Linked DNA regions of Homo sapiens. The protein of the gene in region 1 purifies or fractionates together with the protein of each later gene. This does not show direct contact. Each region holds a gene or a part of one and is shown on either strand. Other genes may lie near its edges.

Evidence for each region.
Region 2: the proteins of MAGEB10 (region 1) and NOC3L purify together in Homo sapiens (affinity purification with mass spectrometry; 2 studies listed by BioGRID and IntAct, with this or other methods). This does not show direct contact.
Region 3: the proteins of MAGEB10 (region 1) and NOC2L purify together in Homo sapiens (affinity purification with mass spectrometry; 2 studies listed by BioGRID and IntAct, with this or other methods). This does not show direct contact.
Region 4: the proteins of MAGEB10 (region 1) and DDX31 purify together in Homo sapiens (affinity purification with mass spectrometry; 2 studies listed by BioGRID and IntAct, with this or other methods). This does not show direct contact.

Annotation. Positions count from the first base shown.
Region 1 is NC_000023.11:27,814,490-27,817,989, reverse strand, and holds part of MAGEB10 (melanoma-associated antigen B10), read right to left. Parts: intron 437-3,500; 5' UTR 288-436; intron 1-287.
Region 2 is NC_000010.11:94,332,726-94,336,108, forward strand, and holds the end of NOC3L (nucleolar complex protein 3 homolog), read right to left. Parts: intron 1,994-3,383; coding exon 1,909-1,993; intron 1,581-1,908; coding exon 1,452-1,580; 3' UTR 501-1,451; downstream 1-500. UniProt on the Homo sapiens protein: May be required for adipogenesis.
Region 3 is NC_000001.11:956,457-960,687, forward strand, and holds the start of NOC2L (nucleolar complex protein 2 homolog), read right to left. Parts: upstream 2,801-4,231; 5' UTR 2,785-2,800; coding exon 2,759-2,784; intron 2,626-2,758; coding exon 2,473-2,625; intron 818-2,472; coding exon 643-817; intron 570-642; coding exon 438-569; intron 1-437.
Region 4 is NC_000009.12:132,645,984-132,649,759, reverse strand, and holds part of DDX31 (ATP-dependent DNA helicase DDX31), read left to right. Parts: intron 1-1,208; coding exon 1,209-1,328; intron 1,329-1,464; coding exon 1,465-1,571; intron 1,572-2,701; coding exon 2,702-2,937; intron 2,938-3,688; coding exon 3,689-3,776. UniProt on the Homo sapiens protein: May have DNA helicase activity and RNA helicase activity. Probably have ssDNA and RNA dependent ATPase activity. Plays a role in ribosome biogenesis and TP53/p53 regulation through its interaction with NPM1.

The sequences.
Region 1 (3,500 bases):
CTGAACTCTGGATACAGATCCCTGACTACCCCGTGCCCTGAGTTCTCTGGACTTTGTTTAGCTTATGATCTCTCTCGTGGATTCTGGAAATTGTTCCAGTGCCCAGTTTTCCTGATGTCCTTCACTAATTGAGGTTTTCTTGTTAAGGCACATTTCCTGGAACCTTGTCATTCTGAGTAAATCCTTTCTTCTCAAAGTAAAGAGAAATGTGTTATTGAAATATCAAAATTCTAAGGCATATTGTGGAGCAATATGTAAACAGTTATCAATGTATATTTAAAACTCACAGTAACCAGGTACAGTGGCTCCCAACTGTACTCCTAGCTGCTTGAAAGGCTGAGGTGGGAGGATTGCTTGAGCTCAGGAGTTCTAGGCTATACTGAGTTATGATCACACCACTGCACTCCAGTCTGGGCAACAGAGCGAGGCACCGTCTCTAAAAGAAATAAATAAGTAAATAAAAATTAAGAAGAAAAAGGAGCAAACAAAAGCAAAAAAACCCTCACAGTGTATTTTTGTTGCACATGTATATAAGAGAAAGCCTATAATACATTTAAAAATACTACATGCAGGATTTAAAAAATGTGGTTACATATGAGGAGGTATTGAATTTTGGAGGGACATAGTAAGGAAGCGAAATTTTGATTTATCTGTATTAGAATTTTTGGCAACAAGAATACATACACTATTTTCTTGGTAATTAAAATATTTAAATAATAATAACAATGGAATTAGTAGTTGTGTATTGTACAGATAAAGTATGTATGAGATGTAATGGCAAAAGGCTGAAATCTCAATGGCTTAACACACTAAAGGTTTATCTCTTATGCAAATAAACTTTGATATTAATTAATAGGGATTTTTTGCTGTCAGGTGTCCCAGGGATCCATGCTGCTTCTATACTGTGGCTCCATATCTCAGCATGGAAGAGAAGGCATGGAGGTGGCAGACTGGCTCTCAAACACTTTGATCTGAAAGGGAAAAGCATGCTACTGTTCATATTTCAGTGTCAAGGGGGGTAGTCACATGACCTTTCCAAACTACAAGTGGACTGGCAATGTAGTCTCCATATGAACCAAGGATAGAAAGCAAGACACAAAGTGGATGAGCACTTGCAGTCTGTCCAATTAACTATTATAATAGTAAAAGCTCAATAAAAGCTACTACTATAAATTTGTTATGAAAACACCCTTCTTAAGTCTTGGAGGAGTTTCTGAGAATATCAAATATCTTTGCTAAACAACAACATTTTCTAGTGTCTATATGTGACAGGTAATTTCAAATCCAGAATCACACTAATTTTCAAAACGATCCTGTAAATCTCAGCAAGGAGGGTTCACCCCGCTGCACTCAATAACACCTTTCTGCACTGACCTTTTCAATGACCTCTATAATCTCAAGAGACTGAAAAATTTCTTCCTTCTTTTGATGTATTGTTAAAAACGTAACTTGTGAGTCCTGCTACCCACCACCTGATGAACATGTACACCTGAGCACATGTACAGGTGCCCTTAGGCGCAATGAAAAACCAGGATTTTCCCTTGGCGCAGATACAGACAAGAATCAGGAGAATGATGGCGAATTATGGTTTTTCTTTTCTTATCAAAGCTGGCATGTCTGCCAGAGAGACATATTCTACCTCTGTGGTAGACTGAATAATTGCTCCACGAAGATTCACATATCCTCATTCCTGAAACCCATGAATATGTTATGTTACATGGCCAAAGGCACTTTGCAAATATAATTAAAATTATGAAACCGACCTGAAAATAGAGAGATTACACTGGATTGCCTACATGGGCCAAATCTAATTAGATGAGCCCTTACAAGCAGAGAAGTTTCTCCACCTGGAGGCAGAAGAGATATGCAGCAGAGACAGAAGTTAGAGAAATTCCAAGCGTGAGACAGGTTCAATGTCCCAAGTCTGACTCAAAAGTAGAGGCCCACATGCAAAGACTGGACACAGGCCTGGAGAAAATATGGCAGCTCCAACTGATAGCCTGAAAGGAGACTTACTCCTCACTCTTCTTACAACCACAAAGAACTGGGTTCCTCATATAATGACCTGAATAAGCCTGAAATGGGATTCTTCACAGTGTGTCCCAATAAGAAGCCAGGCTTTGACAGCTTGATTTGGGCCTGTGTAACCCTAAGCAAAGAAACCAGCAGAACCAACCCATACTTCTCACCTACAGAAGGGTGATCTAATCAATATGTTATTTTAAGTGTCTTACTGTATGGCATTTGTTATGTCAGCATAGAAATCTACTACATGCTCCTAGTACACCAGGATTTATAGGAATCCAATTTCTGGACATGGTTGATACACAGTTATTTCCTAGGTCCTTCCTTATCCACCACTTGAGACAGAGGCTTCGATATTTTCACCATTCACTTAAGCTCACTAGTGTATGGATTCAGTGCTAGTCTCAAATAAGTCACCAGATTACATTCTCCTCTCTTTCTAACTTCATCTGCTTTCTACACCTCCTCTCTAACTTCAGAGTTATCTTTCAAGGTTAGATTCTGTTCCAAGTCTGACCTGACTCACAGGCAGACTTGGAAAAAATCTTGAGTGTGGTGGAATTACTCAGAGCAGATGAGCAGGTATGTAGTGTTCACTGCCAAAGTAAACAATTACATGGAAGGGGCTGTTATCAGAGAAGTTCCAAGTGAGTGATGTGACAAAACAGAGGACATCTGCAGGGAGTTGGAAAGCTCTAAGTCAGGAGAAAGGAAGGAAAGTTATTCTGGGCTTTCTTTCCCATAGGGAGCAGGGTGCAGCCTTCATGGAAGGAAGCAGGGAAGAGCTGGACAGCAGGTAAGGATCCAGATTTGGGCACAAGGACTCACAGGGGCTGACTCAAGGAAAGAACAGTGTAATTTGGGAAGTGCTGGATCTGGTCCCAGGTGCCAGCACCTGGGCAAAATCAGCTCCCAAAGAACCCTGGAGCTAGGGGTGGATGGACCCTACGAAAATGAGGCCCACGGGCAGTCCCCAAATGGTGTTCAATTCTCATTTTCTCCATTATTTATTACATCTGGATTTAGTACACTGGCCCCAGGTTCCTTCTTTTTATTGCCTAGAGACACAGTGCAGTAGTGAGAAGAGAAATGAATTAAAAGACAGACATGTGCTTCATGCAGGAAGGAGTGCAACAGTGTGGGTTCTAAACAAATTCAGACTATGGTTCTAATTTTGACACTTAATGAACCACGTGAAGTCAGGAAAATTGCAAAGCTCTATGAGGCTCAGGCTTTTTGTGAAGTGACCTTGATAAGCCTTGCCTTGTAGGATTTCTGGGTTGTATGTAATGTATGAAAACTCTGGGAAAAGTGCCTATTATTTATTGCATATTTAATAACTAGCGTTTGTTACTATTATTAGTTTGACCCCAGGCCCTATTGAAATCTCTGTGATTGTTTTTAAAGCAAGAGATGTCCGAAAATATGCAGCACTCTATGATACAGCACACAAATCAACCAAAAATGCCGCTTAG
Region 2 (3,383 bases), on another chromosome or scaffold:
TTTAAGCTGATTTTTCACCAGAAGTATAGTTTCTGCTGCCAAAGTAAAGTATAAATGTATTTGTATATGTGTGGAAAATAAATAATTTGTGACATGTATTGGTCACTTGTGCTCTGATGGGGATTAGACCCTTTGGTTATCCACACAAATATTTATCACATTCCTGGACTTTGTTTTATACCTAAAAGGTGGACTAAAAGCAAATATTCATATGCTGAATCATACCTTTCTCATTAAATAATCAAGCCTTAAAAAATGTGACCTCAGAACCACTTTTAAAAATCATATATAATATGCTAAAAGACTGACATACACTGTTAAGCTCATATCCTCTCACTCTGCTGGAATGGTAAAGGAATTTTCTACTTTCGTTTACTTCATGTGAAAAAAGAACTCTAAGCTCCAGAGTAAAATAACTGGCTGCTATGACTTTCAAACAGTAAGAGATCTCTTTAGTTGGACTGCTGTGCTTTTTTCAAAAAATTATCATATCACAAGAATAGGAAGCAGAAAAAAACAGCTGTTTTATTCAACTATTCACAATAGAGAATATTTATAATCTAGTCACTGAAACACGCATTTCTTAGGCCACTCCTAGAATATGGGAATAGCTGTTACATAAAATACTGTTTTATAATTATATTAATAAGAAAAAGCATTTTACCTGTTCCAAGAGGGGAAAAAAGCTCCTCATTGAGTATCCTTTGTCTCTAGATCAGAATGGTAAAGTCTTGGGCCTGGTTCTTCTACCCTGGAGCAATTCTTCCCCAGTCACCCTCCAGGGAATGTCAGAAAACGTGAAGAACTTTAGAGACTAGAATCATATTCAAACTTTCCTTGAAAGTAGCTATAATAAACACTAACACCTTTTTTAAAAGGCCAAATTAGGTAACTTCTTTAGGTGGATCATCCAGCAAAAGCCAATGAACCTGAATACAAGCTATTTTTTTCTTTTCTCAAATATCTTCATAAAAATATATTAACTCAAATTTAGAATGCTTCTCATTTCCATCCACAGTATTGAAATAAAAATATTTAAAGAGTATTTAGTTATAAAAAGTAGCTAAATGGTAAAATGTCTTCTCATGGTCTTGATTTTTCTGTGCTCTATGCCCTAATTTTAATATAGCAACTGCACTTCAGTAAGATCCAGTCCAAAGATTTTTTTAAAAAACTATAATGTACGTGAAGCTTTTAAAAGGCAGCATCATCAAGAAAGTAATTTCCAAATACTGGGGAGAAAAAAAGGCTTTTGATCTCCTTGATGGAATGACATATTCAGAATAGGGGCAGAACCCTGTGCCATGCAAAGGGTCATTCTTCCTCTTCTTCCTAGACATTCTTAGGAAGCTTTCCTTGTATAAAAAGAAAAGATCCTAAGTTAACAACTCATCTTTATGTACATCTGCACACACAAATATACAAGAAAGTCCACTGACTTCATTCCTCTACTAGTGTAGTGATGTTTTCAAATATTTCGTGAAATCCAGAGGCGATTCAGTAGCAACTTCACTGGAGTATCTTTTGATTAGCTGATTTAAATCTTCATTCAAAAATGAATCCCCTTGTAAAAATTTACCCTAGGAAAATATTTAAAGTATGAGTTAGAAGTTACTTATGCTATAAGCTAAAGCCAACCTGTGAACCAAGTTGAAAATGGCAACAGCTGACACCAACACATGCAACACAATGACAGATGCTTGGTAAGGTCTTGGACATATCCTATATTGAACGAACAGTTTCATGATCATCTCTATAGAATTTCAACCTCAGAAATCCATCCTATGATGAAATCCTAAACATTAAAAAAAAAACTACCTATAAAATAATTAAGCAAACTGGAGTTAGAGTTATTGAGATACATTGGTTTCTATTTCTTCCTTTAAAAAAATGAAAAATATCCCATACCTTTATTTTGGGGTTTGAAGATTCAACAGGAGGATTGAATGTCATTTCTGCCATGCTATATGCCTCAAAAAGTTCAGTAGCAGATCTAAATCACAAACACAAAAAATGTAAAGATACCACCACATCTGTGTAACTCAAAAATAATTAGATTATACTCAGAGAATGATTCATTCTTAACCCATATATTAAGGTATAAGATTTGAAACTAACCAACCAATCCAGTCACTTAACAAATTCTAAATTCCCATTGTAATGTCAACATTATCCAACTAAATCCACCTCAGAGAGGTTTGGTATACATTTAGCAATACAGGCATAGACTCCAGAGAGAAAGCTAAGCTGAAGAACTCCAGTTCAGTGTGATCAAATCCCAACCCACTGATAATGCAACTAAGTATATCTTAGTCATGGGAGCCAGAGGACTGAAGCATGGAGTCATTCTCCACAGACTTAGAACACAGCTCAACTCTTCAGCTACTGGCCTGGATGAAAAACAAGGAAAGGCCATTCAGGACAGAATACATGTCTATACCCATGGCGTGTAAATGAATCCTTAATGATTTGGAATTAGTTCACACTCGCCAAAACACATAGGCAAGGGCCTACGAAGGTAGCAATTAGGCTCACATCCCAATACCCACTCTCCAGAAGCCCACTATGAGTCTCCTTTCTTAAGCCTTTGGGATAAGCTCATTCCTCATCCTTCTCCACAAAGGAAACATCTTTCCTTAGCAAAACTGCTAAGGAAAACATGCCATAAAATAATCATTATGAAGAGTGACAAAGAATTGTTTTCTCCTTTTTTCCTTTTAAAAAAAAAGGCTGGTGGGGTGAAGACTGGGGACAGGTGAGAAGTGTGAGGGAAGAAAAAGTAAATGGCCATTTTATTTAATAAGGCCAAAAGTTATCTCCATCCTACTCAGAAGGAAAGGGCTCATGGAAAACTGCAGAGCTCTTGCCTCATGTAGAGGAGGCAGCAACTGACTGACTACTGTCATGTAAAATACAAGCCAATGTCACCAAACCTCCCAGTATTTCAAGAAAAGCGGGAAATGTGAATTTCAGATGAATTCTTTCAATATTTAAAAGACAGCAACTAATTCAATTTTTTTCAAACTCTTGAGGCCAGAAAAATCGGCCTGGCCCACAGGTCACCAAACTATGATCTCTGAATTACAGAAACCAATGGGCTTGCAAACGGAAAAAACCTACAGCAAAATATTAATTCTGGGTAATGAGTACATTGTAAGGTGCTATAGTTTCAATGTGTCCCCTCCAAAATTCAGATACGGAAACTTAACAGTCAATGTGATGGTATTAAGAGGCAAAAGCTTTAAAAGGTGATTAAGCCATGAATGGGATTAACCCATTTATGCCTACTAGTGTTCCATTATCAGAACACTAAGCTTGTAGGAGTTATTTATATCCTACTGCTCAAGGTCATCGCCAAGGTCTGATTTTTCACACACAAAAAA
Region 3 (4,231 bases), on another chromosome or scaffold:
CTATGGCCACCTCCAGGTGGTATCTGGAGCTCTCCGTATCCTTGTCCCTGGAAAAAAACACTGTGAGAGGCTCAGAAGGACCCCAGCTCCACCAACCAACAAAGGCACAGTCCGTCCCACCCACAGCGGGACTGACTTTGGGGAGTGGGGCGCCAACAGAGCCCCTGGAATCTACCCAAAAGTGAACACACAGTCCTGGGGCAACCAAGCAAGCAGGAGGAGCAACGTGTTGTCACTTGCGCTGAAGAAGGCTCCAAGCGTCCCCTGCGTGGAGAACAGCCCCTCCCACCAGCACAGCCTCAGGCGCCTCAGGTGAGGCAAGGCCAGATCTCTGCCTGGGCACCCAGCTGCCCGCCCCTCGCTGCTGCTCACCTCAGGTGAGGCAAGGCCAGATTTCTGCCTGGGCACCCAGCTGCCCGCCCCTGGCTGCTGCTCACCTTTGCTGCCTGCTTCCATCTCTCAACCATGGCGACGGTCACAGGAACAGAATTCTTCTTCCCCTTCAGCCCTCTGGGGACTCTGTCCCCATCTTCTCCTTCCTCCGCTCCATCCTCCTCCTCACTGGCTTCCTGCACAGAAAGGCTGAGCTGAAGGAGAGTGTAGAGACAAGTGCCCCCCTTCTGGTTTGGCCCACGCCCTCACCTCCAGCACATCTGGCAGGGAGTGGAACGGCCCCTCTTCCTCCTCAGAGCTGTCCGAGTCGCTGAAGTTTAGCAGGCTCTGGTCATTCTCCTGCAGGAACTTGTAGAACTCGGGGTCTCTGTCCTTCAGCCGAGAGAGCTGGTCTTTGTGCTCAGAGGCACGGCCTTTACGCCGGCTGAGGAGGCAGAAGTCAGCGACCCCAGTGGGAAGTGGAAGTAGAGGGGGCGGGGAGTGGCCTACAGGGTCAGTCTACTCCCTTCACAAGGGTTACCAACTAGCAAGACAGGATTGCCAGGAGGTACGTTTTTGGCAGACTCACGTCTCCTACCCAACAACCTCTACAACATACCCTCAAACACACTACACAGGCCCCCCAGCCGCGGTCTTCCCTGGACTTGCTGTGCCTGCGCCCTGCGCTACACAGGCCCCCAGCCGCGGTCTTCCCTGGACTTGCTGTGCCTGTGCCCTGCGCTACTTTTGCCTGATGGTGGCTTCACCCTTCCAGAGGCTCAGACTAAAGGCAAATCTCTGTCTCTAATACCCAGCACGCAACTTGTCATCAGATCTCATCAGCAACACCTTCAAAACCGTTCGTGCCTCCTCTCAAACCACCACATAGTTCAATTCTCAGTTAACCTAAAGGTCTCTCTGTTTCCACCCTTGTCACCTACAAGGCACTCCACCGCTCAAACCCAGAAGTAACTCCCTGTTTTACGAGGCAATCTTATGACGGTCTACGGCACCTGGCTCTTCATCACCCTTCTGGGCTCATCTACCCCTATTCACCCCCTCACTCCTGCCGTAGCCACGTTTACCTCTGTACTCTCCCCAAATGCTCCCACTGCAAGGCTTTTGCTGTTTTCTGCTGCCTGAAATCCTAAGACACGTTTCCCCTACTGTCTGTGTGGCCTCCTTGTTCGAGGTCTTTATTCAGACGTCATCTTCTCAAACAACCACCTCCGCTTTTTTTTTTTTTTTTTTTTCTCCTGAGGCGGAATCTCACTCTGTCGCCCAGGCTGGAGTGCAGTGGCGCAATCTCCACTCACCGCAACCTCCGCCTCCCGGGTTCAAGCGATTCTCCTGCCTCAGCCTCCCGAGTAGCTGGGACGACAGGTGTGTGTCACCACGCCAGGCTAATTTTTGTATCTTTTGATTTCTTTCTTTTTCTTTTTGAGATGGAGTCTCACTCTCTCACCCAGGCTGGAATGCAATGGTGCCATCTCGGCTCACTGCAACCTCCGCCTCCCAAGTTCAAGCGATTCTCCTGCCTCAGCCTCCCGAGTAGTTGGGATTACAGGTGCCCACCACGCCCGGCTAATTTTTATATTTTTAGTAGAGACATGATTTTTCCGTGTTGGTCAGGCTGGTCTCGAATTCCTGACCTCAGGTAATCTGCCCGCCTCGGCCTCCCAAAGTGCTGGCATTACAGGCGTGAGCCACCGAGCACAGCCTCCGCTCCTTCTAACAGAGCAACTCGGCTCCCCTGCAACTCTCTCTTCAGCCCCTCTGTCCTTCCTTTCCCTCCCCAGCACTTATCTCTCTTCTACCGAACTGCAGGCGGTGATTTCACCCAAGAACGTGAGAGTTCTCCTAGATCGGGAAGAGATTTTTGCACAACTCACCAACATACGCTCCCTGCCTAGGACAGAGTTTGGCACGGAACAGGAGCTCAGTAAACATCGGATGAAAGAGTAAGTTAAGCTGAAAGGACTGGGGGGCAGAGGTCGGCGATCCTTAGGCCTTGGCCCTGAGACCCCAGGCGAGGTCAGCAACCCAACCGGGGTGGGACAGGACGAGCAAGAGGTTCTGCTCACGCATGTCCCCACTAACCTGGCCGAGGGGCTCCCGCCCGGCTTATCCGGACTCCGGGCAGCCTCGCGTGCTTCCCGTGTCTCCGCTTGTGGAGAATTTTCGGACTCGGATTCGGACTCGGAGTCAAAGCCCGAAGCTAGGAACTCGTCCACCGTCAGCTCCGCCAGGCGCCTGCGGGTCACGCAGGAGTCACAGCTGCCCGCACGCCCAGCTCGCCCCAGCCCCGCTGAGAGGAGCAAGAAAAGCCCCCTTGGATACAGACACCCACCGGGAGGCCAAATCGGCCCTCGGACCCGCGGCTTACCTCTTGCGGCTCCCCGCAGCTGCCATGACACCAACCCGAAGCGTGCACCCCACTTCCGGCCCCAGAATGCCGCGCGGCTGCGCACTTCCGCCGCCCAGGCCCCGCCCCTTTCCCCGCCCCGCCGCGCCACGCCCAGCCGAGTGGCTCTATGGTTCTCCGACCGCAACGCCGGCGGCCTCAGGGCGGGAGGGCGCGTTCGCGTGCTCGGTGCGGGCAGCCCCGGTGGGGCCCAGATGCGCCTCCCGCTCGGCGCCCGGCTCCGTAGGACGCGGTGACGCCGGTGTCCGCCCCGGGGAAGACCGGGAGTCCCGCCGCGCCCGCAGCCCACCCGGCGCTCCGAAGGCACGCGCCTGCGAGGACGCCAGACTGCAACGGCGGGGCTCCTATGCAAAGAGCTCCCACAAATCAACAATAAAAAGCAGGGAGTCCAGTGGAAAACGCGAGGGGCAGTGGGAACCGCACTGATGTCGCCAGCTCGACAAAAGACGGGCGACCCGAGGGCCAGGCTGGCTTCGCCTCCGATCCGCGGAGACCGGGCCAGCGCCACGAACACCACGCAGGGCGCTCCCCGTCCATGGCCCTCTGGGTGCCGACCGCGGCTCTTCCCGGGGACGCCGCACGGGACGAAGACGGTGGGGAGGCCGGCGCCTTCCTTCCCGCTACCAGCCTGACACCCGGGCCCCCGGGCCTGGACAGCCAGACCCCGCGACAAGGGCGCCGCGGGGCGCAGGCACGGCTCCCCCAGCCCTGGCGCTGAGGGGGCGCGTGAGGCGAACACGGGCGGATTGGCCTCGGGGTCCCATTCGACTTCTTGGTGCCGCGGGGCCCCGGGGCTCCCCGGAGGAGAGCAAGTTAGGGGGTCGGGGGAGCGGGGATGGCTTCCGGGGGAGGAGGAGGGCGAGGCCTGGGGGGCTCCTCGGAGGAGGAAGAGGGCGAGGCTTAGGGGGGCTCCTTGGAGGAGGAGGAGGGCGAGGCTTAGGAGGGCTCTTCGGAGAAACAGGAGGGCGAGGCCTGTGGGGGGCTTCCCGGGGAAGAAGGAAGGCGAGACCTAGGGGGGCTTCCCGGAGGAGGAGGAGGAGGAGGGCTAGGCCGGGGGCTTCCCAGAGGAGGAGGATGGCGGGGCCTGGGGGGCTTCTCGGAGAAGGAAGATGGCGAGGCCTAGGGGGGCTTCTCGGAGGAGGAGGAGGGCGAGGCCTGGTGGGGGGCTTCCCGGAGGAGGAGGATGGCGGGGTCTGGGGGTGCTTCTCGGAGGAGGAGGCGGACCCGGGGCGCAGCGCTGGAAGAATCCGCGTCCAACGTCTAGTCCCCGAAGCCTCTCGGGAGGCGGGGCGGGCGGCGCCGAGAAACAGCGGCTGCGGGCGGGAGCGGCGGGAGTGAGCGACACAGAGCGGGCCGCCACCGCCGAGCAGCCCTCCGGCAGTCTCCGCGTCCGTTAAGCCCGCGGGTCCTCCGCGAATCGGCGGTGGGTCCGGC
Region 4 (3,776 bases), on another chromosome or scaffold:
CTCAAATTGTCTTCATTCTTTTGAAAACATTTTTATTGTATTATAGCTTAATAATCAGTACTCAATAATGATGCATGTAGTCTATAACTGAGGAGTAAATATGAAACCTGAAACCTCAAAGCATTGGTTAGGATTAGACTCAGCTGTGAATAACAACAATAATAACAAATAACAGTGGCACAAACAATATACAAGTTTTATTTTTCTTTCACATTTAAGAAATCTGACAGAGCCAGTCCAAGGCTGGCCTGGTGCTCCAGTGTCGGGGACCAAGCTCTTTCTGTCTTTTTGTGCCACTATGGGAGGATTCCATTTTTAAGATTACCTCATAGTCTTAGATAGTTGCAGGCACTCCAACCATTGCATCTAATTTCTTGCCAGCGGGTACAGAGATGCTCATACCTGCTCCCTCTGAAGGTGCTTGTGTGATTGGCGTGTTCCCTTTACCTTTTATCCCATTGCTAAAACAAACATGACTATACTTAACTGCAAGGGAAGCTTGAAAATATATCCAGCTAGGCTGGGTGCAGTGGCTCATGCCTGTAATCCTAGCACTTAGGGAGGCCAAGGCAGGAGGATGACTTAAGACCAGGAGTTTGAGACCAGCCTAGGCAACATAGTGAGACCCCCGTCTCTACAAAGAAAAAAAAAATGTGCTAAAAATTGGAAGCTTTTATTACGGTGGACTGACAGGAAAATGGTTGTCTGGGGAATGAGAAATTAGATTTATTGTATATAACCCATGGGACAAAGCTGAGCCCCGTTGAATGGAAGTTACATAAAGGGCTTAGCATAAGAAAAAAGTGTCCTAGCAATTGGAGCACATTGGCATGGAATCACTTGCTCAGATACTAGATTCTCTGGCACAGAAACCTTCGAGAACAGGCTAGACTACAATCTCTTTGGAAGGTTCTAGAGAGGATTTATGAGTCAGATAAAGAGCATTGGATTATGTAGTTATGATCCCTTTCAAAGTTAAAGTTTTATGATTTTAATGTAATTTCAGATCTTAACAATTGCATTTCACAGTACAGGGAAAGACTCAAGTACAGCTTTCTACCCAGTTTTTATGTTTTGTCATGATTTCAGGCTATGGCACGTTTGCACTGTACATGAAATGAGTCTGTCTATTTTGCCTTTTTCCTGTGTTTTCTACTGGCGTGGCCCTGTTTGATTTACTTTCTTTTATGATATATAATTTTAAACAGACTCCGCAAAGGAATAAATATCCTTATCTCAACTCCTGGACGCCTGGTGGATCATATAAAATCCACAAAGAACATTCATTTTAGTCGGCTGCGGTGGTTGGTGTTTGATGAAGCAGACAGGTGAGCCTCGTCCCAGGATGATAACAGGTAGAAGAGAAGGGCTGTTTCTCCTCTCCTTGTTGCAACTTCTGTAGCCCCTTAGACCACATCTGCTCTTCATATAGTTGAAAATTTCTTTTTTTTTTTACAATCACAGAATCTTGGATTTGGGTTTTGAAAAGGACATCACAGTGATACTTAATGCTGTAAATGCTGAATGCCAAAAACGACAGAATGTCTTGCTATCAGCGACACTCACAGAAGGTGAGTTGAAAAGAAGTGATGGGTCCTTCTTTGTTCTTAATGAAGAGGAAGGACCTAGATTTAACCTGGGTTGTTTGCTGCAGTGATTCTCAACCTCAGGGAGGTGGGGGCAGGGAGAGAGCTGTCCTTAGAAGACTGCCTTTTCAAACTCTATGTTCTACACTCCCAACTTCCCTCTGCAAGTCATCCAAGACAGATATGTTCCCCAGGGCATGGGGAAAGGGAGAAAGGGCAGGGATGAGGACGAGAAAAGACTGGCTGCTATTGGCTTGGTGGTTTCATGAGGTTTTTGTGCACTTGCAACCCATGGAGAGCAGGGCCCTTGCACTGAAGATGATGACCTCTTATCTGAGTGCATTTTTAATGTAATCACTCTTCCTCCTATAGAGCTATTAAACTTAAAAAATATATCAATGAAGCGCTTCTCTGTCTTCCATCCATGTGAGATGGAAATTCTTAGCTCTCTTTTTTATCACTGGGAACACGAAGGCTTGGAAAAGTTGTATCACTCTACCAGATCCACCCCACACAGTGAGTCATTGACCAGCAGTGCAGCTTTCACGTTTTTCTGTCTGGTTTCCTTGATTTACTAGGCCACATTATGATGTGCATGTACCAGATGCCATGCATGTGGTCCCTCACAGTTCCCTATGTTCTAATTTTTGAGGGATGATTCACGAAGAAGGGATTCTGTGGTCAAGAAAGTTTGAGAAATGCCCCACATCCCTCCCTTGGATATTCTCAGGGCACATTAACACAATAAAGGCCCTGAGAGGGCTGCTTATAGCAAAAACGCTTTTGTGAAACCTTTGAAATCCAAGATTTGCCATAACTTACTTGACCAAAGAACCCTTTTGGGAGGTGGGGGTGGGCGCAGTATCTGTTGCTATCTTTTGGACGCTGTTCCATAGGTGAGTGTTTATAGAATGGCTATGGAAAGATACGTTGGTAGATCTCCCTGCAACACACACGTTGGCACTAGGGCGGATCAGTGCTGGGACTTGGTGATACCCATGGGGTAACATACGTAGTCCTAACATACATGGGTGGGTGCTGTATGGGGGTACGCTTTTGTGACCAGTTTCATGGTGTGTTTGTTGTCTGCTTTGCCCTTCTTACTTTTATCCAAGGTGTAACGCGGCTAGCTGATATCAGTTTGCATGATCCAGTCAGTATTTCTGTCCTGGACAAGAGCCATGACCAGTTGAACCCAAAGGACAAAGCGGTCCAGGAGGTCTGTCCTCCACCAGCTGGCGACAAGCTGGACAGCTTTGCAATACCAGAGAGTCTCAAGCAGCATGTGACTGTGGTTCCCAGCAAACTGAGGCTTGTCTGCCTAGCGGCCTTCATCCTTCAGAAATGCAAGGTGGGACTGTGGGCTAGAGCCGACTTGATTCAGGGAAGAAAGGCCTGCTTTCTTGTGTTAAGCCATTGGGAGCAATGAGTTGAGACACCAAAAATCAGAGGTTTTCCAACTTATGTCTGCATTCCGGATGCAGACTTTGATATACATCCTTTCAGTCAGGTTTTAGGATTATGGTAAAAACTCAGAGGTCAATGATAGCCATGATGTTCAGCTTGAAATGTTCTCGATACCTTTCCTGGGACTGATATTAGGAACATCACAGGTGGCGGGAACAGCTGGATGTGAGGCAGACGTAGGGGCTTGTGCTCATGTTTCTCCAAGAGTCTTGGCATTTGTGTATTTATTTACTAGATTTCTGCGCTGACTCTGAGATGTGAGAAAATAGTAAGTGGAAGGGCTTAAGGGTGAAGGTTTTCTGCATATGTAGGGTCTCAGCCAGGTAGTGTTGCATGTGGCAAGCCCTGGGCGAATAAAGGGAACGGAGCTCCCACACAGCTGTGCTCCCAGGTGTGTTTATTTTTGTCAGATAAGGGAAACCTGTTTGAAATGATAGCTGTGTCGTTTTCCTCTCCTGCATTCTTTGTAGAGTGGAGTATCACTGTTTTTGTTTTTGTTTTTTTAAATAATTCAAAGATAGTCACCTTTATTTCCAAATGGGGGTCAGCATGACTGTATAGTTTAGAGAAATATTCGTTTTGGCGTCACCTAATCTTAAAATATGTCGGTTTTTCCTCCCTTTGTATCGATGTAGTTTGAGGAAGACCAGAAGATGGTTGTCTTTTTCTCAAGTTGCGAGCTGGTGGAGTTCCACTACAGCCTCTTCCTACAGACCCTGCTGA